Linked DNA regions of Homo sapiens: all the other regions are linked to region 3. Evidence: fine-mapped expression QTL. A gene starts in region 3. Each other region holds a variant in brackets. All regions are shown on one strand. Distances are from middle to middle. Region 1 overlaps ERRFI1-DT (ERRFI1 divergent transcript). Region 2 overlaps LOC107984915 (a long non-coding RNA gene). Region 3 holds the start of TNFRSF9 (TNF receptor superfamily member 9).

Evidence for each region.
Region 1: its variant is fine-mapped to the expression of TNFRSF9 in whole blood (TOPMed, PIP above 0.99).
Region 2: its variant is fine-mapped to the expression of TNFRSF9 in whole blood (TOPMed, PIP 0.99).

Annotation. Positions count from the first base shown.
Region 1 is chr1:8,099,907-8,108,089 of GRCh38, reverse strand. All of the region lies in intron 2 of ERRFI1-DT (ERRFI1 divergent transcript), which reads right to left. Among named protein-coding and RNA genes, the nearest start is that of ERRFI1-DT, 78 kb to the right of the region's middle. The variant C/T (reference allele first, on the strand shown) is at 4,080.
Region 2 is chr1:8,130,596-8,138,778 of GRCh38, reverse strand. It overlaps LOC107984915 (a long non-coding RNA gene), which reads left to right. Exons shown (of 3, transcript XR_001737893.1): 2 at 637-928. Among named protein-coding and RNA genes, the nearest start is that of LINC01714, 74 kb to the left of the region's middle. The variant G/A (reference allele first, on the strand shown) is at 4,721.
Region 3 is chr1:7,937,793-7,945,973 of GRCh38, reverse strand. TNFRSF9 (TNF receptor superfamily member 9) reads left to right here and starts at 5,135. Exons shown (of 8, transcript NM_001561.6): 1 at 5,135-5,190; 2 at 5,896-6,079; 3 at 7,146-7,253; 4 at 7,644-7,781. The coding sequence starts at 5,980. RefSeq lists a silencer at 3,292-3,431.

The DNA.
Region 1 (8,183 bases), 160 kb before region 3:
TCTGGTAACTTATCAGTGGATAGTCTTAAAGATGTTTACAGGGTCCTCTTATCATTTGGAGCTCTGCTGGGCCTGTATTTATGGGTCCTATTTCAGGCTTGACTTGGTCCTTCTCTCTTCTGGCCTTGATCAGTTTTGCTGAAGTGAGTGTTTCTTTTTTTGGTCTTTTCGAAGAACCCATTTTTCCTTATGAATCCTTTCTATTTCTTTGTTATCGATTTCACTGATTTCTGTTTTTATTTTGAGTATTCCCTTGTTTTTACTTTCTTCACATTCATTCCGAAGTCCTTAATCCAATTTGTTACACTGAATGCTTGGCTCACTAATTAACAGCAGCAGTTCCTTTCTAATATAAAGAAACATTTACGGCTAAAATTTTTACTCTAATTATTGCTTTAGCAAGATTCTTCCAGTTCTAATGTGTAATTATTTTTCTCATTCACTCTCAAATACTTCCTTGTTTCTATAATGATATTTTATTTTATATTACATTATTTAGAAACTTTTAAATTTCTAAAAGTATGGGGAATTTTAGGTACAATTTTGTTTTGTTTTGTTTTGTTTTTTGAGTCGGAGTATCTCTGTTGCCCAGGCTGGAGTGCAGTGGTGCGATCTCGGCTCACTGCAACCTCTGCCTTCCAGGTTCAAGCGATTCTCCTGCCTCAGCCTCCCGAGTAGCTGGGATTACAGGCACACACCACCATGCCCAGCTTTAAATGTCCCACTTCTTAATACTTTTGCATTGGAGATCAGGTTTCAACATAGGAATTTTGGGGGATGGGAGAGGCACAGACATTCAGACCACAGCATAGCATGTGGTTATTGCTTTTTATTGCCAAATAACACTCCTGTGTGGATGTACGTGACATTTTACTTATCCATTTATCTGCTGATGGACATTTGGGTCGTTTCTGCTTTTTTACTATTAGGAATAATGCCGCTATGAGCATTTGTGTACAAGTTTTTCACGGACATATATTTTCGTATCTCTTGGGTACATAATTAGTTGTGGAATTGCTGGGTCATATGGTGACACCATGTTTAGCTGTTTGAGGAACTTGCCAAACTGCTTTGCAAAGCAGCTGCGCCATCTTAAAATCCCACCAGCAGTGTACAAGGCTTTCAGTTTCTCCACTTCCTCATTGGCACTCGTCATTATGTCTTTTTTATTATTGCTTAGTCCTTTTTGCCCAACAGCTTGTACTGCGCTTGACACAGGGCATGTACTTAAATATTTAATTACAAACAATGTAATGATCTTTCTAATTACAGCATGTTTTAATTCTCATGTGTATGTTATATACATTATGGTTACATATGTTATACACAATATGGCTAAAGTATTATTATATCTTGCACCAGTCATTAAATTCCTTATTTTAAGCTATACTGCTGTTTGGGTAGAAGGCGTGAGGGAAGAGGCAGGGAGCACGTCTCACCAGTGATAGTCACAGCCAATAACCTAAGCCACAAAGGGCCACATCCGTGATGAAGGACATATAGACCAATTCTTGTCATTACACAGGCCAAGATCTAATTTCTGGATAAAAGATTAGAAAAGATTTTCATTTTACTACAGACTGATGTAGCTGATGTTAGCAATGCAGTTCCATTTTTCTCAAAGGCATTTTATTACTGAGTCAATAAGATTATCTAAATTTTTTAAGTCTACATATTTTCTATGGGTCTCAAATCTATTCTGATTTTAAATAGGGACTTTTTTTAAAAATCTTTTTTCTTTTTCCTGACTTGACTTCATGAAAAATAGGTTGTCACCACAGGACTAGATAACCATGTATTAGTCAACAATGTTTTTCCTAATAAGGAGTCTCACACTGGAATCCAAAAAAAAATTTTTTTTTTTTTGAGACGGAGTCTCATTCTGTCACCCAGACTAGAGTACAGTGATGCAATCTCTGCTCACTGCAACCTCCGACTCCCGGGTTCAAGCAATTCTTCTGCCTCAGCCTCCCAAGTGGCTTGGATTACAGGTGCCCGCCACCACACCTGGCTAATTTTTGTATTTTTATTAGAGACAGGGTTTCACCATGTTGGCCAGGCTGGTCTCAAACTCCTGACCTCAGGTGATCTGCCCACCTCGGCCTCCCGAAGTGCTGAGATTACAGGTGTGAGCCACCGTGCCCAGCCAAGGAAACCAAAGTTAAGAACAGAAACTCTGCACGGCCTGAGAGTCTTGGTTCAGGAAGAAAGAAAAGGTTTACATTTTAATAGCAAGGCCATTTTGGTGTTTGTCCTGAGAGCCAGAAAGACAAGTGATTTGCTAAAATTGTTCGTTTATTCATTGGTTCACCCAATATACATTCAATAGCATGAAAATATACTTTGTTTCCAACACACCTGCAGATGGTCCCCAGCATGGTCTGACTTGGTTACTATGACCTACGGATCTCCTTCCTGGGTTATAATCAACACCTCAGACAGCATCCTCCTCCTAAATATAGTTTAAATTATATTACCTTAAATATAGGTTCCCTATGCTCATCCACATGATGCTCATTAATATTTATCCAGTCACTCATGCTTCCCTTGCAACTGGTCCCCATGACCTGGAAATTTGAAGCAACCACAGCCATATTGCTTTTTGCAGACTGTTTATTTGGTGATCAAAACAAGTGTGTAGCACATTATGGGTCCTCAATAAACATTGAAATAATAACAGATTCCATCCTTAATAATCACTGGCTTCAAAAAATTAATGAAGCAGTTGCCTTCATACCTCCATATGGTCAATAGAAACTGTGATTACTTGCTGCCACGACCTCTATCTGCAAATGACACTATGGAGTTAGATGATTGGGAACACGTGTCTCAGCTTTGTGTCAAGGTTTGACTTCAGGCACGCCAAGGTGTGTCTTAAAAGGTAGATCAAGTGGCCTGGCACGGTGGCTCATGCCTGTAGTCCTAGCACTTTGGGAGGCCTAGGCGGGAGGAATGGTTGAGCCCAGGAGCTCGAGACCAGCCTGGGCAACGTGGCAAAACCCCATCTCTACCAAAATACAAACATCAGCCAGGCATGGTGGCTCGTGCCTGTGATCCCAGCTACGCAGAGTGGGAGAATCTCTTGAGCCAAGGAGGTTAAGGCTGCAGTGAGCCGCGATGGCACCACTCACTGTACTCCAGCCTGAGTGGCAGAGCAAGACCTTATGTCCAAAAAAAAAAAGGTAAACCACTGGATGCAGGAAGTAGGGCTCTCTGTTGACCTGAGGGCTCTAGGCAATGTCTTAATCTCAGTCTTGTCAGCTTTGACTTTTGTCCCTAGTGAAAGGGCTTGTGTTTCCTCTTTCTGTCTAAGGGGAATTCTCCTTACCTAACATGCTGTTTCTCCCCAGCCCGTGCACTTCCTTATTCTGCAGCCCCTTCTAAACTCTGGGCGAATGGCAATGATTGGAGCAGAAGATGGGGATAATGACGTCACCAGATGGGAGTCATTTGCTGAAGCTGGGACTCATGTGGGGTTAGGGGGCGGCAATATGGCAAGGAGCAAGGCTGCCATGCATTACAAAAAATCATTATAATGGCCCCTCAAAAAAATTTGAATAGATGAGCCTTGTAGACATTATGCTAAGTGAGATAAGGCAGTCACAAAAAGACAGTCACTGTATGATTCCACCTACATGAGGTACCGAGAACAGCCAAATGAATAGAGACAGAAAGTAGAATGGTGGTTGCCAGCGGCTGCAGAAGAGGGAGTGGGGGGTTGTTTAATGGGCACACAGTTTCAATCACGCAAGATGAGAAAAGTTCTGGAGGTTTAAACTCAACCTCATTAAGGTATAATTTACATACCATAAAATGTATAAACTTTAAGTATGCAACGTGAGTTTCGACAGATGAATATGTACACCCATGTAACCATCATCACGATTAAGCTATAGAATATTTCTGGCTGAGCACAGTGGCTCACGCCTGTAATCCCAGCACTTTGGGAGGCTGAGGCAGATGGATCACCTGAGGTCAGGAGCTTGAGACCAGCCTGGACAACATGGTGAAACCCCATCTCTACTAAAAATTAAAAAATTAGCGGAGTGTGGTGGTGCATGCCTGTAGTCCCAGCTACT[C/T]GGGAGGCTGAGGCAGGAGAATCACTTGAATCCGGGAGGCAGAGGTTGCAGTGAGCTAGATTGTGCCACTGCACTCCAGCCTGGGCAACAGAGTGAGACTCCGTCTCAAAAAAAAAAAAAAACCCACCCACACACAAAAAAAACAGATAAAGGACATTTCTATCACCCTAAAAGGTTCCCTTACGTCCCTGCCTGGTAAATCTGGACCAACCCCTCCTGGCCCAAGGCAACCAGAGACCTGTCTTCTAGATTTGCTTTTTTTTTTTTTTTTTTTTTTTTGAGACAGAGTCTCACTCTGTTATCCAGGCTGGAGTGTGGAGACACGATCTGAGCTCACTGCAACCTCCACCTCCCGTGTTCAAGTGATTCTCCTGCCTCAGCCTCCCAAGTAGCTGGGATTACAGGCACCCATCACCACGCCCGATTAATTTGTGTATTTTTAGTAGAGACAGGGTTTTACCATGTTGGCCAGGCTGGTCTCGAACTCCTGACCTCAGGTGATCCATCTGCCTTGGCCTCCCAAAGTGGTGGGATTACAGACGTGAGCCACCACACCCGGCCCTAGATTCACTTTGTCTTTCCTAGAGTTTCATATAAATAGAATCATACAGTAGATACCCTGGCTTCTTTCACTGGGCATGTTTTTAAAATCCATCCATATGAATCATTAATTTGTTCCTTTGTATTTCAAAATAATCTCATTTTTATAGACATGTCACAATGTATTCATTCACTGTGGATGGGCATTTGGGTTGTTTCTGGTTCTTTGACAATTATTATGAATAAAGACTCAATGTCTTTATTGGTAAATGTCTTTATGTGAGCCTGTGCTATCACTTCTCTTGAATAAATGCCTAGGAGTGGAATAAAGTCACATATATAACTTCATAAGAAATGGTGGAGCTGTTATCCAGAGCGGTCTTACCATGTTGAATGACGACCGTAAACATACGATAGTTCCAGGTGTTCCACATTCTCACCAGCACTTGGTATTGTCATGTTCTTAAATTTTAGCCTTCCAATGGGGTTTTAGTTTGTATTTCCCTGATATCTAATGATATGGGGCATCTTTTCATGAGCTTGCTGTACTGAAAATACTGTCTCCCAGTCTGTGACCTGCCTTGTCATTTTCTTAACAGTGTCTTGCCAAAATCAAAAGTTTTTAACTTTGAAGTCTATTTTCAATTCTTTTATAGTTCATACTTTTTATATCTAGCTGAGAAATCTTTGCCTATTCCAAGGTTACAAAGATTTTTCTCCTATATATTCATCTCTAAGTTTTATGTTAAGGTGTATGATCCATTTCAAGCTAGTTTTATGTAAGGTATGAGATAAACATCGGGGCTCCTGTTTTCCACGGAGATGTCCAGTTTTTCCTGCATAATTTGTTGAAAAGACTGTCTTTCCCCTCAACTGAATTATCCTGGCTACTTTGTCAAATATCAATTTACTAGGTATATGTGGGTCTGTTTTCACTTTTCTGTTCTATTGAGCTGTCTATTTGTGTAGTGATACCACACCGTCTTAATTACCGAAGCTGAATATTAAATCCAGAAATCAGGTAATATGAATTTTCCAATGTTGTTCTTTATTTTCAAAATAAGTTTATTGGGTTCTTTGTGGGCTCTTTTTGTTTCCACATCAATTTTAAGAGCAGTTTACCATTTGCTACAAAAGCTTTGCTAAAATTTTACTTGGCATTGCATGGTCTCTACAAATTAATTTGGAGATAATTGACATTTAAAAAAATATTGAGTCTTCCCATCCACAGCATGGTCTAGCTACCTATTTATTTCTATATTTTAAATTTTCTCTTAGCAGTATTTTAGAGTTTTCTATAGATTGGTTTTATTCTTATTTTCTTAAGATTATCCCTAAGTACTTCATGATTTTTGAAGCTATTGTAAGTGGTATTTTTATCTGAATTTTCAATTGTTTGAAAATTGAAAAATTCAATTCTCAATTGAATTTCAATTTGTTACTATTACATATAGAAATTTAACTATTTTTTGCAATTGTATATAGAAATTTCAATTAATATTGACCTTGTATCCTTCAACCTTAAAAAACTCACTCTTTATAGCTAATAACATGTTTTGTTTTGTTTTGATTTTGGTAGATTCCTTTGGATTTTTTATGTTCAAGATTATGTTGCTTGTGAGTAAAAATAGTTTTACATCTTTCCAATATGTGTGGGTTTTATTTATTTTTCTTGCTTTATTGCACGAATGAGGACCTCCAGTACATGTTGAATAGCAAAGGTGAGCGTGGACATCCTTGTCCTTTCCCAATCTCAGGGAAAAGCAGTGTTTCACTATTAAGGATATTGTTAGCTGTAGGGTTTTTTTGAAGCTGTCCTTCATTAGGTTGAGGCAGTTCCCTTTTATGACCAATTTGCTGAGAGTTTATGAGTGGGTATGAAATTTTTTCAGAAGTGTTTTCTTTTCGGGGGAACGGGGTACATCTACTGAGATACTGTGTAGAGAAGAGTTAACATGGCAGGGCTGGGACTGCTCTCCTTTGAAAGTCCTGTTTGCAGCCAGGTGCGGTGGCTCACACCTGTAATTCCAGCTCTTTGGGAGGCCAAGGAGGGCTGATCATTTGAAGTCAGGAGTTTGAGACCAGCCTGGCCAATGTGGTGGAACCCCATCTCTACTAAAAATACAAAAATTATCTGGGTGTGGTGGCAGGCGTCTGTAATCCCAGCTACTAGGGAGGCTGAGGCAGAAGAATCACTTGAAGCCGGAAGGCAGAGGTTGCAGTGAGCTGAGATCCCACCACTGAACTCCAGCCTGGGCAACAGAGTGAGACTCCATCACACACACAAAAATAATAATAATAATAATAATAATAATAATAATAAAATCAAAAATAAAGAAAGTCCTGTTTGCAAATGTTAGCCTTTGGCTGGCATCTGCGACTTAGATTTTAGGAGGGTTCCCGTTATTCCCAGGCCTCATGAGAGTCTCACGTTGCCTAACCTGTTTGGTACAAACCATGTGGTTTACGCTGAACACCTATTTTCCTTTTTTGAGGGGAGTCTGGAATTTTGGTATGTGCCATGCAAAGGTCGCCTATGTGACCAGCCCCTTGTGAAAACCCTGGGCTCCGAGTCTCTGCAAGTTTCTTAGAAGACAACATTTCACGCATGTCACAACTCATTGCTGAGGGAGTTCAGCACGAGGAAATGAATTTTGGAAACTCACACCAGACTTCACCCCAAGTGCCTTTTGACTTCGCTGGTTTTACTTTGTGTTCTTCCTCTGTGATAAATCTTAGCCATGAGCATGACTAGATCCTGAAGCCCGTGAGTCCTCTCTAGGAGGCGAATCTGGAGGAGGCCTTAGGGACCACCAACACAGATATCAGAAATTTTTTCTCCTTTATTCTGTGAGTTACATCAATTTAGTTTGAAAATTAAACCAATCTTGGGCAGGGTGCTGTGATTCATGCCTGTAATCCCAGCACTTTGGGAGGCCGAGGTGGGCAGATCACTTGAGGCCAGGAGTTCGAGACCAGCCTGACCAACATGGCGAAACCCCATCTCTACTAAAAATACAAAACTTAGCTGCGTGTCGTGGCGGGCACCTGTAATCCAGGCTACTCCAGAGGCTGAGACAGGAGAATCAATTGAACCCAGAAGGTGGAGGTTGCAGTGAGCCCAGATTGCGCCACTGCACTCCAGCCTGGGTGACAGAGTGAGACTCTGCCTCAAAAAAAAACAACAAATGGAAAATTAAATCTATCTTGAATTCCTGGAATACACCCTATATGGTATTAACCTCCATATATATATATATATATCTTTGGATTTGATTTGTTAATATGTTGTTATGGATTTTGCACCTATGATACTGGTCTATAATTTTCTTTATTATAATAATTTTGTCATGGTAATTCTGGCTTCATAAAATGAGTTAGAAAGTATTACTTCTCCCTCTATTTTCTGAAAATTTGCATATGATTGATGTTATTTCTTTCTTAAATATTTGATAAAATTCTCCATTGAAGCCATCTGGGCCTGGTATCTTTTTAGTCAGAAGTTTTTAAATTACAAATTTAATTTCTTTAATAGGCCGGGCGTGGTGGCTCATGCCTGTAATC
Region 2 (8,183 bases), 190 kb before region 3:
TTTGGGAGGACAAGGCGGGAGGATCACTTGAGTCTAGGAGTTTGAGACCAGCTGGGCAACATGGCGAGACCCCCACCTCTACAAAAAATACAAAAAATTAGCCAGGCATGGTGACATGTGCCTGCGGTCCCAGCTACTCGGGAGGCCGAGGTGGGAGGATCACCTGAACCCAGAAGGTGGAGATTGCAAGTGAGCAGAAATGCGCCACTGCACTCCAGCCTGGGTGACAGAGCAAGACCCTGTCTCCAAAACAAAACAAACAAAAAGCCTGGGAAAACTCATGTTACAGCCAACTTGTAGAAATTTTATTATTCTCTTCTCATCGATGGCCTTTCTTTTCGTCATCAGTGTTCCTTAAGTTTCCTTTCATCAGAGATTCATTATGGGTGTACATTTATAAATGAAAACGAATTTCAGGTGTCCATGAGCTTCCGTAGGGGTCAGCTATGGACCGGCAACCTGAGGACAGCTGTAAGGACTCCGGGCTGAGCACCTCTCTGAGACTCCCAAGGTGTTTAATTATTTTTAACAAACAGAAATGGAAGCAGACACTTTTCTGCCTCTAATGATATGACCACTCTGGCCCAGCATGACAAACTTCATTTCCTCCCAAATCCCTTTTTGCTGATCTCTCAGATCCCCAGTTGGAGGAACCATCCTTTACAGCTGACTGACTCACCAGTCCCTAATGCTGGTCAGATGTCCTGAACAAGGAAAGCCGTGATTTCTGCGACCAGAGAGAATCGGTCAGTCACGGTGTCCCTCAGCCAAAATGAACTCAGCCTATTGTCTCCGGAGAGCTGGTAAATCGGCAGCTGAAGAAACATACAGTTCTGTGTTTCAAAATGCAAAAGACCACATTTCCCTGACCTCGGGTGCTCGCTGACACATTCCCAACCAATGACTATAAATCTGCTCCTGGATTGTGGTAAGTTGAGAAATTAAACACAAATATCCCATCTGATAACCTTCCTCTGGCCTTTCACAGTGTTGTTTATAGAACTGAATTTTAGAAAATGAATTCCTTTATCCTCAAGGTTTTAGGGCTTTTTTCTTCTAAGCCCAGAAACTGTAAACGTTTTCATGATACAAGAAAGCTGGCGCTTCTCCTTCTACTTAAATTACAGACACTCGTCTGAGTTGCCTGCTGCTGTGGATTTTTGTTGGGTTTCAGTTGCTTTCTAGCCATTCTTCCATCCTTAGAGCATCTGAATTTCCTTTTATGAATTTCCCTCATCCCCTTTGAGGGAATCCGATGAAATCTCAAATCCAAGCACCTGCCTCCCAGCAAGAATGCGGAGCTGCTAGCTTTCTGGAACTACATGATTTCCACCCCTTTTTTTCTTTTTTTTTTTTGAGACGGAGTCTCACTCTGTCACCCAGGCTGGAGTGCAGTGGCCTGATCTCCGCTCCCTGCAAGCTCCGCCTCCCGGGTTCACGCCGTTCTCCTGCCTCAACCTCCCGAGTAGCTGGTACTACAGGTGCCCGCCACCATGCCCAGCTAATTTTTTTTTTACTTTTTTAGTAGAGACGGAGTTTCACCATGTTAGCCAGGATGGTCTCAATCTCCTGACCTCGTGATCTGCCCACCTCGGCCTCCCAAAGTGTTGGGATTACAGGTGTGGGTCACCGCGCCTGGCCAATTTCCGCCCCTTTTCAAACTCAGTGCCTCAACCTCACATCTGTTGGATGAGTCCAAGAGACCCTTCTAGTACATTCCCTTTTGCTTCCATTACACTCTAACTGGTGAGCCTAGTGCATAGGAGAGGCGCCTGTCCCTGTCAGCCTTGATCTGGCTTCCTGAGAGCTCTGTCTTATCTCTAACACATATTCTTCTGTCAAAACACAAGTGGAACGGCAGATTGGGGTTTTGAAATCACACTTGGTGGAGCTCTGGCCTGTAGATGTGTTCTCACCAATCCATGAGGTCTTTTCAAAAATATCATCATTGTTTTATTATTTATTTATTTATTTTTGAGACAGGGTCTCACTCTGTCACCCAGTCTAGAGTGTAGTGGGGGTGATCCTAGGTCACTGCAGCCTCGACCTCCTGGACCTCAAGTGATCCTCCCACTTCAGCCTCCTGAGTAGCTGGGACTACAGGTGCACACCACCATACCTGGCTAATTTTTGTATTTTTTGTAGAGACAGGGTTTCACATGTTGCCCAGGCTGGTCTCGAACTCCTGGGCTCAAGCAGTGCTCTCGCCTCAGCCTCCCAAAGTGCTGGGATTACAGGCGTGAGCCACCTGGCCTTCAGTGAAAATCTTAAAGGATTAATGTAAAAATCACATGGTGGGATCATGATCCTCCCATCAAGCTCTGTATCAAACATTCATCCTAAAGCTCATCAGTTCAGAGCTGGAGAGTAAACAACTTCAGAGAAAGAGGCTTTCCAAAACAGTGGGAATTTCGGCAGAGATGGAGCTTGGGGAAACTGAGGCACTCAGTCTGACTTCTCTTCCCTGATGAGGATGTGGGCTTGCTGAAGCTGAGTTTGGTTCAAGAAAGAGGAGAGTTCAATGTTGATAAAAATTATCTTGAACAAAAGTCACAGATTGCTAGAGCAAGTTCTTCTTGAACTGTGACAATAAGACCAGGCTAAACAAGCTAAAGGACATAGCAAAACGCATGGACAATGTTAATCGGCCGCATTAGGGAATCCATGGAGAGGCCACCGTGGGTCTCTAGAAGCTACACTGAAATGTGTTTCATCTGCTTCCACCCTGGTGAGAGGGGTCCCACTTCCATAAGTTTCCATGTCCTTTGTTAAACAGAGAACCTAGAGTTGTCGTACAGGGTGGGGAGAGATGTGGTTCCTTCCCACTGGACATTCATCCAACTGAAACACTACAGTTGGTATCTAAAGTGAGACAGGCACTACCAGGCGTGGAAGATTCATCAAGCCGAAAGAAGAAACACTGAGCTAGCTATTTCCAAGGTGGATACAGAGCCAATTGTAACAATGGAATTTATGCAGTTTCCCTACCTGGGACAATTCACACACAGTGGTTAAGGAAGCTCAGTAAAGTCCAGGTAGCCCACTGACTGTTCCCTGGCTTCTCCCAGCCACCTATGACCTGGACAAGACTTGGAACCCAAAGGGAGTTAAAAAACTAAGAACCTCAGGCTGGGCGCAGTGGTCCCAGCACTTTGGGAAGCCAAGGAGGGCTGATCACTTGAGCTGAAGAGCTGGAGAGCAGCCTGGCCAACATGGTGAAACCCCGTCTCTAAAAAAAACTACAAAAATGAACTGGGCATGTTGGCGCAATCCTGTAATCTCAGCTACTCAGGTAGCTTAGGCGGGAGGACCACCTGACCCCAGGAGGCAGAGGTTGTAGTGAGCTAAGACCATGCCACTGCACTTCAGCCTGGGCAATAGAGCGAGACCCTGTCTCAAAACAAACAAAACAAAAAGCTAACAAAACAAAACAGCAAAAACAAAACCTTGAACCTTATCAAGCCTCGAGAGCCAACCACCATTATACCAGGAGCATAGAACTGGCCAGATTCGGATATGGGGAATTTCTGCAGGGCAAACGGCCCAGGTACATCAAGAAACAATGTCATGGGAAAAGATGGAGCAGGAAGTGTGGCAGATTAAAAGAGACGGAACAGTCAGCGGCAACCTTGGTGTTTTGTTTGTTTCCGAATCTGTACAAACCAACAGTAAAAATCCATGATTGAGAAAGCAGGGAAATGGGAAAGCAGACAGGGCCTGAAAGGGTGGTGGTGGCTTGGACCACGTCATTGTGGTGAAGCTGGAGCTAGATTCCTCCACATCCCTTTCTCTGTGGAGTTCTGGGTGAAGAGGTGGCCCAAAGAGGCACTGTCGTGGGATTCGGGAGGCTGCGTGAAGCATCAGCCGTGACTCTCCAAAGTTCTTAGACTTGATGCATGACAGACACACACACAGGTATCAACGAAGTCCAGCTTGTCCCCACTCTCCTGTCCCCATCCACTTCTCCCCGACCACCAACTCTGCTGACCAGCAACGGCCCTGAGCCAGCCTCCAGATGCTTGCCTGGGGTCCACTCTGGCTGGAGCAGTTCTTATTAAAGGGTTTTTGTTCATTGCATTAGCTTCATCGCAGTATTGCATTACACTGGGGGCAAGACATTCTCTGTGGTAGGTACACACTGAAGCATTTATGGGTGAAATTATGTTATTTCTAGGGTTTGCTTAAAATACTTCAAAACGAAAGAGGCTGGAGCGTGGAGACTAAACAAAACAACATTGAAAAATGGTAACGATTGTTAGAGTTGGAAGATGGGCTCATTGTTCTATTTGCTCTGTTTCTGGTATGTTCGAAAATGTTCATGATTTCAAATTACGGAGTCGGGGGAGCTAAGGAAATGGAACAGAACCTGAAGATCCCCCACCCCCTCCTCCACTCCAGACTAGCACTAGGCAAAGTTGCAGGCAAAATTGCATAACTGGAAAATTCTTCAATTCTTCTTGAGGATGTGGGTTAAGGGAGGGAGGAAAAACTTAGAGCGGCAAGAGGCTGATGAATAGACACACACCACAGAAGAAAAAAGAAAACCAATTAAATCTTACTATTACTTTTAACTGTGAGTAATACGCTTGGACATGTGTGAGCTGGTCTTGTTGTTCTTACAAACAAGGCTAAAAAAAACCTATGACCTTGGAATTCTCAGATTCGTGCAGGCTGTTGAGTTATTTTAAGTGGTGTTCAGAGGACAGGGTTTCTGACCTAA[G/A]AATGTACTTTTCCAAAGGTACCTTCTAACTTGGAATTTTAAATATTAATTGAGATATAAAACTTCTTTTTAGGAAAAATGTAAAAATCTCCATGAGCTCAGCCATTGTTTTGGTTAGGAGAGAAGATGACCGTGTAGGATGGGGGCCAACCCAAACAGAAGGGTGGAGAATGGCAACAGGCCCACAGTTCTGTTCACAAATGTTCTTCTCCAGGGCTGAGCTTCTTGGAAAGGGGTTTATTTTATTTCACTCTATCCCTGCTCCACAGTTGGGTCATTTTAGGATCTCAGCTGGTGGCCACAGCTTTTAAGGCTTCTGAGTCATACTCCTTTTTTTTTTTAAGAGGTTATTTAAAAGTTTTTCAAAGTAGGGAGATATTATATGGAAAATATTAAGCAGAAGAAAATATTTTGTATTGGAAAAAATAAATGATCGGTGTTCATAAAAGTGTGTAGTCAGTAAATCAGAAAAACTGTGAACCCGTTAGAGAAACAAACTTTGAGGGAAAATACTGCATATGGTTTTAAAAGATGCAAAAGCTGATCCTGGCACCCAGTCTCAGGAGGAGAACAGAGGGAGGAAGTCAGAAATGCAGATGATCTGTGGGGAGGTGCGGGTGCCCAGGGCAAGAGAGAGGGAGGAGGATGGAGACTCCAGGGCGTGGAAGAGGAGATATGCAAAATGCCGAACCCTAGAGGGGTGCCAGCTCAGTCACCCTCAAGGCAGACTGGCCCAGGTTCCCACACCTCCTTGTCCCACAGTCAAGTCCAATAAAATGGCAGGGGTGGCGGGGGGAGGGGGGAGTAGAGACACAGAGCCCTCTGTGATGTTCACTTGCTGATGGTTTTCCCTGAGAAGGGACTCAGAATACGCCATCCCCAGGCCGGGTGCAGTGGCTCTCAGCACTTTGAGAAGCTGAGGTGGGCAGATCACTTGAGTCCAGGAGTTCGAGACCAGCCTGGGCAACACAGTGAGATCCCATCTCTATATAATAAATATTAAAAATAAAAAAAATTTTTAATTTAAAAAATTAAAATGAATTTAAAAGAAAATTTTAAAAGATAGGATGCTCATTGCAACCTCCACCTTTTAAGCTCAAGCTATCCTCCCACCTTAGCCTTCCAAGGAGCTGGGACTGCAGGCGCGTGCCACCACACTTTGGCGTTAAGGATTATTCTGAGCTGGAGGCACTTGAGAATCGACAAGCAAGTACAGTTCTCTGCCCTCCCCTTCACTGCCTGAAAGCCAGGCATCAATTTCCCCCGTAAAGGTGTCCCTGCACCCCCATCAGAGGACGAGAAGAGCACTCATCCCCAGAGGCGGTTGGCTCCAAGATGAGTCTACATGAAGAGACCCTTACTGAAATAACGCCTGACTCCCCATTCGTCCCCATACGCTTCTTAGTCACTTTCCTACGATCCGTTGTCTCTCCAAGCTCAAACCTGCCTTTCTTTGTTAAAATGGTATAAATTCCTGAGCCTAACCACTTCTTTGAGTTTCACTTTTTTTTTTTAAACTCTTATGCATGTAAATGTTTATAAAAATTGTGTGCTTTGTCTCCTGTTAACCTGTTTTTTTTTTTTTTTTTTTTTGCTCTTTTATTTTATTTCATTTTTTTGAGACAGGGTCTCGCTCTGTCATCCAGACAGAGTGCAGTGGTTCTATCTTGGCTCATTGCAACCTCCGCCTCTTAAGCTCAAGCTATCCTCCCACCTCAGTCTTCCGAGTAGCTGGCACTGCAGGCGTGTGCCACCATACCTGGCTAATTTTTGTATATTTTGTAGAGATGGGGTCTTACCATGTTGCCCAGGCTGGTCTCGAACTCCTAGGCTCAAATGATCCTCCTACCTCTGCCTCCCAAAATGCTAGGATTACAGGTGTGAGCCACTGTGCCAGGCCTGTCTTTTGGTAGTTTAATTCGCAGACCCCTAATCATATAACATAGGAGGGTAGAGGCAACGTTTTTCCTCCCTGACACCTGCATTCAAGGGTTAATTAAATGCACAAAATGGGGACCTCTAGACTAATTGCCAGACCCCATAAAAATAATTCACCTGAGGCCTTTCAGATCCTTGAGGCCACCCATGACCTATAGATAAATTACTAACCCAGGCCCTCCCCATGCCCAACAGAAAGCCCAGTGTCAGGTAGACCTGTTTATATTTTGACACATTTTAGCAACTGCAATACAGGCTTTAGCATTCTTGTATACCTTAGTGTTTTTTATAGACAGCTTTATTGAGACATCGAATAAAACAAACATAAACACTTAACGGTGAGTAGATACTTTTGACATATGAATTCACCCCTAAAACTATTTGCCACCATCAAGTCGGTGAACATACCCATCACCCTCGTAGTTTCCTCGTGGCCCTTTGATACCATAGTATTTTCATGTGTCAAAACAGCAGTGTGGGCCGGGCAGGTGGCTCACGCCTGTAATCCCAACACTTTGGGAGGCCAAGGTGGGCAGATTACCTGAGGTTAGGAATTCAAGACCAGCCTGGCCAACACGGTGAAACCCCATCTCTACTAAAAATACAAAAATTAGCTGGGTGTGGTGGCTCACGCCTGTAATCCCAGCTACTCAGGAGGCTGAGGCATGAGAATCGCTTGAATCCGGGAGGCAGAGTTTGCAGTGAGCTGAGATTGCACCACTGCACTCCAGCCTGGGTGATAGAGTGAGACTCTGTCTCAAAAAACAACCACCACAATGAAAAAACAGCAGTGTGTTTGTGAGTATAGCACCATTCTTTTAGACTACAGTGGGCAATTGGCTTAGATTTCTGGCTCTCTTCTCAATCCCTTTCCCCACTCCTGTCCCAAGCCCCCCAGCCGTCATCATCACTTTCCTCCTGCTATTCCCTACCAAATCCTCTTGCCCCCACCCCAAAACCAAAGCCCCTCACTCAAAGGGGGACAGTGGAACCACTCTGTGTGTTTCGAGGGTCACAAAGCTGCTAGTCAGGGCCCCGGGGGTGCCCTGGAGATAAAGGAAGCAGCTAAGCCAAGATAAGCTAAGCTCCAAGAAATGCTCTGGGATGTGTTATAGATGTTTAGTTTTGATCTTTCTATTCTCCATTTCATGAATTTGAAAAGTTTTCAATAAAATGTCCCTTTTTTTTTTTTTTTTTTTTTTGAGACAGGATCTTGCTCTGTCACCCAGGCTGGAGTGCAGTGGTGTGATCTTGGCTCACTGCAACCTCTGCCTCCTGGGTTCAAGCAATTCTCCTGTCTCAGCCTCCCGAGTAGCTGGGATTACAGGTGCGTGCCACCATGTCTGGCTAATTTTTGTATTTTTAGTAGAGACGGGGTTTCACCATGTTGGCCAGGCTGGTCTTGAACTCCTGACCTCAAGTGATCTGCCCACCTCAGCCTCCCAAAGTGCTGGGATTACAGGCGTGAGCCACCGCACCTGGCCAAAATAGCCCCCCCTTTTTTTTGAGAGAGAGAGAGGGGGTC
Region 3 (8,181 bases):
TCCATGGCAATATACAAGAACTTCCAAAACCACCAAGTGGGCCATAAATTGGATCAAGCAAGTGGATAACCAGCCTGAGCAACATGGCAAAACCCCTTTCTACAAAAAAATATAAAACTTAGCTGGGCAAGGTGGTGCGCACCTGTAGTCCCAGTTACTCGGGAGGCTGAGGCAGAAGAATCCCTTGAACCCTGGAGGCAGAAGCTGCAGTGAGCCAAGATTGCACCACTGCACTACAGCCTGGGTGACAGAGTGAGACCCTGTCTCAAAAAAAAAAAAAAAAAGGATACTTGGGACTGTAGGGAAATACCACTGTCTGTGATATTCTTGCATAATAATAGATTATACAAGAATCTGTTACACCCTTGGTATCTGAGATGGATTTGACAAATCTACTTGCCTTTTGTCTGCCTGGTACTTCTATGGCTCACACCCTCCCTGCCGTTCTTGGAGGCAACAGCACAGCTCACAACTCTCACAGCACGGTGTCACCCTCAAATGGAGTTTCAAGGACATGGATCCAGGGATGTGGGGGAGTCTTCACCCAGGCCTGGCAGTGTGGGTCCAGAGAGCAGATGGAGCCGAGTTAATGCATCCCTATGCCAGCACCGTGCGCCAGACACCCAGTCACAGACGCAGCTCTGTGTTCATTGTGTTTGTGTGTTTGTGTCTCTGCTCTGGACAGAACATACTTAACAGCGTATTTGGATTGATGAACAATTTCTAAATATTTGGACACATGGTAAGCAGGCCTCTGTTTGTACTCTTGTCCTGGGGACTGCACAGTGTTGGGGGTGGTCTGAAGTTGGAGACAACTATTGATAAGCCTTAGCATATGAGTGGATGCCACCTGGAGAAAGGGCAGAACAAGGAGGAAAGGTGAGCAAAGTCGATGGCTGCTGACACCCGCCTCTCCTTATGATTCGTACTTCCTTCTCCTTACTCTGCCTCCTTCCTCTTTGATTTCCTGCTCATTTTCTTTGTTCCAAGTTTAAAAACAATTTACTCCTTCCCAGGCCTCAGAACACCTACTGACATCACAAGCACCAGGTATGTCTAATAGTGACTACTAGTTTGGGTGTTTGGAGTAGGGGTGGCGACACTGAATCTTGAAAGAATAGATCTTTCAGGCAGAAAACAAGTGTAAACAGTGAATATCCCACGGAAGAGATTCCCTCTAAGATGCGCCCTGGAAGGGCGGAAGAATATTTTATAGGAAGCTTATTTTGAGGGCTTTCTCTTTCTAAATGTCTCCTTTATCCTGTTTAGAATTGTTGGGCCTTCATGCTATTTAGCCTCAAAGTATTTAGCTGCTTGAGATATTCAAGATTAGACCTATAGTCAATCAAAATGAAATAAAATCTATTTCTTGGTTTATTTATTTATTTATTTTTTTTTTATTTTATTTATTTATTTATTTTTTTGAGATGGAGTCTCGCCCTGTCGCCCAGGCTGGAGTGCAGTGGCACGATCTGGGCTCACTGCAAGCTCCGTGTCCCGGGTTCACGCCATTCTCCTGCCTCAGCCTCCAGAGTAGCTGGGACTACAGGCACCTGCCACAACGCCTTGCTAATTTTTTTTTGTATTTTTAGTAGAGATGGGGTTTCACCATGTTAGCCAGGATGGTCTCGATCTCCTGACCTTGTGATCCTCCCACCTCAGCCTCCCAAAGTGCTGGGATTATAGGCATGAGCCACTGCACCCGGCCTATTTCTTGGTTTAGAATGAGATGCTTAGGATGTGATGAAACAGATTATTAATACTGCTTAGGATGGATGAAACATATTATTAATATTATTAATACTGCTAAAGTGTTGCTGTCTTGTCGGGGTCATCTCTGATTTAGTTTGAGATGGTTTTATGGAATAGAAAAAGCTTTTGTTGCATTTGAAAGATTACAGGGCTACAATGGATAAAGCAATATGATACATGTTATAAAGCAAATGAAAATTATACCAAAAGAGTATTACACCTTTGGCTAGCTTAGATAGTATGTATATCTGGTTAACTATATAATTTGACTTAGCTTACTACGATGATTTTATACCACACAAAAATGCATGCAGTAACATGAATTCTTTTTTTTTTTTTTTTTGAGACAGTCTAGTTTTGTTGCTCAGGCTGGAGTGCACAGGTGCAAACATGGCTGACTGCAACCTCGACCTCCCAGGCTCAAGCAATCCTCCCATCCCAGCCTCCCAAGTAGTTAGAACCACAGGCACATGCCACCACACCCAGCTAATTTTTGTATTTTTTGTAGAGACAGGGTCTGGGCATCTTGTCCAGGTCATCTTGAACTCTTGGGCTCAAGCGATCCTCCTGCCTCAGCCTCCCTAAGTGCTGAGATTACAGGTGTGAGCCACTGTTCCCAGCCATGAATTTTTTAAACGCCTGAGTAAAGTTGAGCATAGCCTTCAGTAGCAGAATTCTGAAGTGGTTGACTTTGTTTAACTGTGGGCTGGCAAAACTAATGTTGAGACTCTTTTAGCTCAGTAAAGACTCTTATGTTACTGGCATAAAAGCCTGAAATAGTGAGCTAATTACTGTGCTGGGAAACTAAATATGTCACTTTCAGAGGAAGTAATGTCTCTGCCTACAGAATGTCCAAAACGTAGACTAGTGAGTAGCATTTAGTTAAATGAAATATGGCCCAGTTAAATGTCACACTGCAATGTTAAACAGAGTACCACATGTAAACAAGGAGATTACTTGGTTAGATGGTGACTTTCAAAGTGTTAGGAGGGGATCAGCAGTCCGATTTTTATGGTGTGACACTCTCACATTCAGCCAATTTCTGCCAAAGTGGGGCAAGGAGGGATCCCACAGATGTCACAGGTAAGATAACTCTCAGATGACCGTCAGTATTTGGGAACACATTTTGCAGGCAGCTCATGCGTTTTTCTCCTTTTCTGTCATGACTTGCCCTGTGGTGGCTCTACTGATGGTCAGTGTGGGAGGCAGGGAAGGAACATTTCAAACCAGTAAGTCTGATCATAGCAATTCCTACTTTCTTGAGAACTATGTGCCAAGCATTGAGCTAAGTATTTCATGCTCATCGTCTCATTTAATCCTCACTCACGAGGAAGATGTATGGTGTCACTGCACCTGTAAGATGTGCTTGCAAAAACAGAGTTAGGGAGGTTGAGAAATTTGCTCAAGATTACACAACTGAGGCAGGAGAATGGGGAACATGAGGCGTGAGAGAGCAAAGGGAATAAAAATCACTGGGAACCGGTAACCCCCCTCACCCCCGAGAGTGGCCAGGGAGAGAGAGGCTGCCTGAGGGAAGGAAGCTCGGCAGGACCCGCTGCAGACCCAGGGCCAAGGGAAGTCCCGCGGGAGGAAACGCGGGCGCGGTGGGGCTGGCTCCAGGCACGCGGGCCAAGGGCGGGAGGGTCGGACACGAAGCCACAAGGCTCCTTTCCTTCCTCCTCCTTCCCGTCTGCCTTCTTCTGCTTCTGCGGCCTGATCTCCGAGTCCCTCTGCCTGCAGGCGGCGGCAGAACGTCCGCATCTGTCCGCATCTCAGCGCTGTCCCCCAACCGAGTCGCGCCGCGTTTTCCTCTTCTGTCGGGAGAGCTCGTGCTGGGAACCGCGGGGCAGGAGGACGGCCCAAGCTACTCTCGATGTCCTTCCCCAGCCCACGCCTGCCCCAGCCACAGTTCCCCTGGTTTTCCTGAGGTTCTCCAGCTGCTCAATGATGGGCAGGTTCATCTACAGCCTGGAGCAGCCGCCTCCTCCTCCTCCTCCTCCTCCTCCTCCTCCTCCAGAAACACCCCTTTTTCCTTCTCCTCATTCTTCCTTCTCATTCTTTCTCCTCCTCACTCTTCCTTCTCCTCATTCTTCCGTCTCATTCTTTCTCCTCCTCATTCTTCCTTCTCCTCTTCCTCTTCCCCTTCTCTTTCTGTTCTTTTCTTCTTCCTCCTCCTCCTCCTTTTCTCTTTATTTTTCTCCTCCTCCTCCTCTTCTCCCTCTTCTTTCTCCTTATACTCCTCCTCTCCTCTTACTGTACTTTTTTTTCCTTCTGCTTTCTCTGCCCTCCTCTTCCTCTTCTTCTTCTTCTTCTTCTTTTTTTTTTTTTTTTTGTGGCTGGAGTGCAGTGGCGCAATCTCGGCTCACTGCAACCTCTACTTCCCAGGTTCAAGCGATTCTCCTGCCTCAGCCTCAGTAGCTGGGATTAAAGGGGTCCACCGCCACCATTCCCTGCTAATTTTTGTAATTTTAGTAGAGACAGGTTTTTGCCATGTTGGACAGTCTAGTGTCAAACTCCTGACCTCAGATGATCCATCCACCTCGGCCTCCCAAGTGTTGGGATTACAGGCATGAGTCACCGCGCCTGGTCTCTTTCTCCTTTTTTTTTTTTTAAAGAAAAATTGAAATCATGGTTTTCTAAAAATCCCTCCTAGCTCTCAGCTTCACCGAACCACGTCCTGGTCATTGACTTGCCGTGTGACTGCTGTGCTTCCCCTGTTTCCATTTCCCTCCATTTCTCCCTCCTTCCTCCCTCTGTCACCCATGCCCGGAGGAGCACGATAAGGGACCAGGCCGACCTGGGTTCCAACCCTGCCTGCTCCCTGTCCTGTTGACGCTCTAATTCCACTTGCAGCCCCACTTTCCTCATTTGCATAGTGTTCTCCCAGTAACAACAGCAGTCATACCAAGTTCTAGGGTTCTTTCGAGGATAGTGTGTATTCACCGCAGTGCATCTCTGATGCCTGGCACATCGGCTGTGCTCAAGTAATGGCAGCTATTGCATTACAGTGACTATGGAGTTAGGGGACCGCATATGGCAAAATGCTGATCACTGTTTTGAATTTGGTTTCATTCCTCTAATCTCAAATCCAGTGTTTTAAGGACATGCTAAATGCTTTGTCCTGGAGAGCTATCTTAAGGGACAAAATCGTTTTCCCAGCGTCATCTGTGACACATCCTGACAGTAGAGAGCTGCTTCCAAGAAGCAATTTGAAGTGCCATTATCAGGCAGGGACGGGGGCTCTAGGGGATTTCGGGGTCAGCAGATATGAAATGAATGATTTCATAGGGCTGTCACAGAGCTGTGGTGGGAATTTCCCATGAGACCCCGCCCCTGGCTGAGTCACCGCACTCCTGTGTTTGACCTGAAGTCCTCTCGAGCTGCAGAAGCCTGAAGACCAAGGAGTGGAAAGTTCTCCGGCAGCCCTGAGATCTCAAGGTCTGTCCATCTGGGGGAGTGGGTGGGGGCACTGAGAAGGGGTGAGATTGGAACTTTTGCTCCCTTTGCCCATTTCTAGACTTTTTCTCCTAATATGTAATAACTTCTCTTCAATAGCCCTTTAAATAAACATCAATAACTTAGCCTGAAGAGTTTTTCACTCCTTAGTTTTGTTACCATACAAACTTCACATCTCAAAACATGTCTCTGTTTAAGAAAATGTGTTAGTGAGTTGAACAGGGAGGTCTTTCCACATGTTAGTAGTTAGGTGTTCAGCTAAAGGGGGAAGAGTGATTATGTGATAGCTTCTTCTTGAACTGAATTGTCTGATGCCCCTGACAGATTCTCTTTGTAAGGAGTTTATTTCAGGGGCAATAAGTAATTGGCATTATTGCTGGTTGGTACTGCAAAGTACCTATGAAAGTCCCCAAAAGTTCTTGCTATTGTTATTTCTGCATTTTGGCAGAACATGATGGAAAATGCACCCTCAAACTTTGGCAAACCGGCACAAAGCTGTGTGTTTAATCACGCCTGCCTTGTCCTAGTGGTTTCTATGAATCTGCTACTTTTCCGTAATATTGCATCATTAATTGTTCCTGAAAAACCCTGAGTTATCCTCTTATAGAATTGTATAAGTAATGATTGCAATATAGATAATTTTGAAAGGAGAAACCACCTTTCCTTGGAAATGTTTATCTTTTGCAGAGTGACATTTGTGAGACCAGCTAATTTGATTAAAATTCTCTTGGAATCAGCTTTGCTAGTATCATACCTGTGCCAGATTTCATCATGGGAAACAGCTGTTACAACATAGTAGCCACTCTGTTGCTGGTCCTCAACTTTGAGAGGACAAGATCATTGCAGGATCCTTGTAGTAACTGCCCAGCTGGTGAGTACCCAGTTATCATGTGCATTTGATCTGCTCTGTTGGAAGTATGGTTCAGTTAGTCTAGTAGTCAGGGCTAACGAGCTCCCTTTTAAGGAAAGGAAAATGAAAATTCATTCATTTACAAATGTTTATTGGATGCTACAACCTAGCTGTGTGAACACAGCAAAGTCATTCAACCTCTTGTGCCTTGACTTTCTCATCTGGGGATAATAAGAGAACCTGTTTTATAGGATGGCTGGGAGGATCAAATGAAGGGCTTAGAACAGTGCATGGCACAAGGCAAGACTTCAATAAATGTTAGTTTTGTGTGTAGGGCTTTGTGCTCCGACTGGGGGCATAGCAGCGAGTAAGCGCGTAGTAAAGGGCTTAACAGAGTGGGGACGGTCAGTCGCATTTAAATTTTAGTGTAGGACATTGATGTCCTCCTGGATCCAGTCATATTCATCTCCTACATCAATCAAGATAATCATTTTGTTTTATTCAATAGATAAAGTATTTTCTTTCTGTTGATTTATTTGTTACAATATCTGGTTTTTTTGTTTTTTTTGTGTGTGTATGTTTTTTTTTTTTTTTTTGAGACACAGTCTCACTCTGTCGCCCAGGCTGGAGTGCAGTGGCACGATCTCAGCTCACTGCAACCTTGGCCTCCCAGGTTCAAGCAATTCTCCTGCCTCAGCCTCCCGAGTAGCTGGGATTACAGGTGTGCACCACTGCGCCTGGCTAATTTTTGTATTTTTAGTAGAGACAGGATTTCACCATGTTGGCCAAGCTGGTCTTGAACTGCTGACCTCAGGTGATCTGCCCGCTTCGGCCTCCCAAAGTGCTGTGATTACAGGCGTGAGCCACTGCACCTGGCCTGTATTTTGTTATTTCTAATTCTGTGATTACACAAAGAATAATCTTGCAAATGTATTGTTTTAGGAAGTCAATCAAACTAATGTCCACCACTGTGGCATCTAGAAAACTCATCATTCTTTTATAATCTTATTTTATTGTAAACTTCGGAATGCCTTGGGTGACGATTGCCCATTGTCAAACGTGTACCACTATTGTCTGCCTTTCTTAGGTACATTCTGTGATAATAACAGGAATCAGATTTGCAGTCCCTGTCCTCCAAATAGTTTCTCCAGCGCAGGTGGACAAAGGACCTGTGACATATGCAGGCAGTGTAAAGGTATGAGTTCAAAGATATTTTCTTCTTCTAGAAGATAGTTGGGAAGATAAGCTTTTCTTTCCCATTTACTAACTGCTCTCTTTTGAAAATCTCAAGTGTCAAAGACTGATTCTTCTGCCAACCAGCAGGTCTAGGACAATAATATCCAGTGACAGCAATTATTTGTGGACTGAGCTTTCTAAATATTAGAGGAAACATTCATTTGACAAGAGAGAAGTTTTTACTTACCTAAATGTAAAAATGTCTTTATGGAGATTTAAAAGTAAACTTTAAAATTACTGGGAACACTATAAGTAGAGTGAGCATGATTTTTACTGCAGAGCATAAATTCGCTTCCTGGATTTGGAGGTCAAGTGTAATAAAATGTTGGGGGCTGGGGGGACTTTGTAGGTGTTTTCAGGACCAGGAAGGAGTGTTCCTCCACCAGCAATGCAGAGTGTGACTGCACTCCAGGGTTTCACTGCCTGGGGGCAGGATGCAGCATGTGTGAACAGGATTGTAAACAAGGTCAAGAACTGACAAAAAAAGGTACGTTTGCGTTTCTTTGATCTAGTGTAGTTTTGTGACATAGACAAACTTAGCTTTGATCTTGATCCTTTGAAAATAAACAAACAGATTTGTAGAACCTTAAAGTAACAAGGGAGTATATGATATATCATATTTTAATTAATAAAATATTTCAATTAATAAAATATTTCCGTTATTTCTTCATAAATGGAAATAATTTGAAATCAGAACATTTGTTAATTGCCAGAACCATTAATCTTCACATGTTCCAGACATATACAATACTTTATGTACAATTAAAATAAAAACTAGCCATCTTAGGGTGTTGTTTCAAGAATTATTGAACAATTTGTGCAGATTGCATTATGGTAATGACTTATATTAAGTTCATCACAGGAAAAGTTACAAAATGATGAAAATG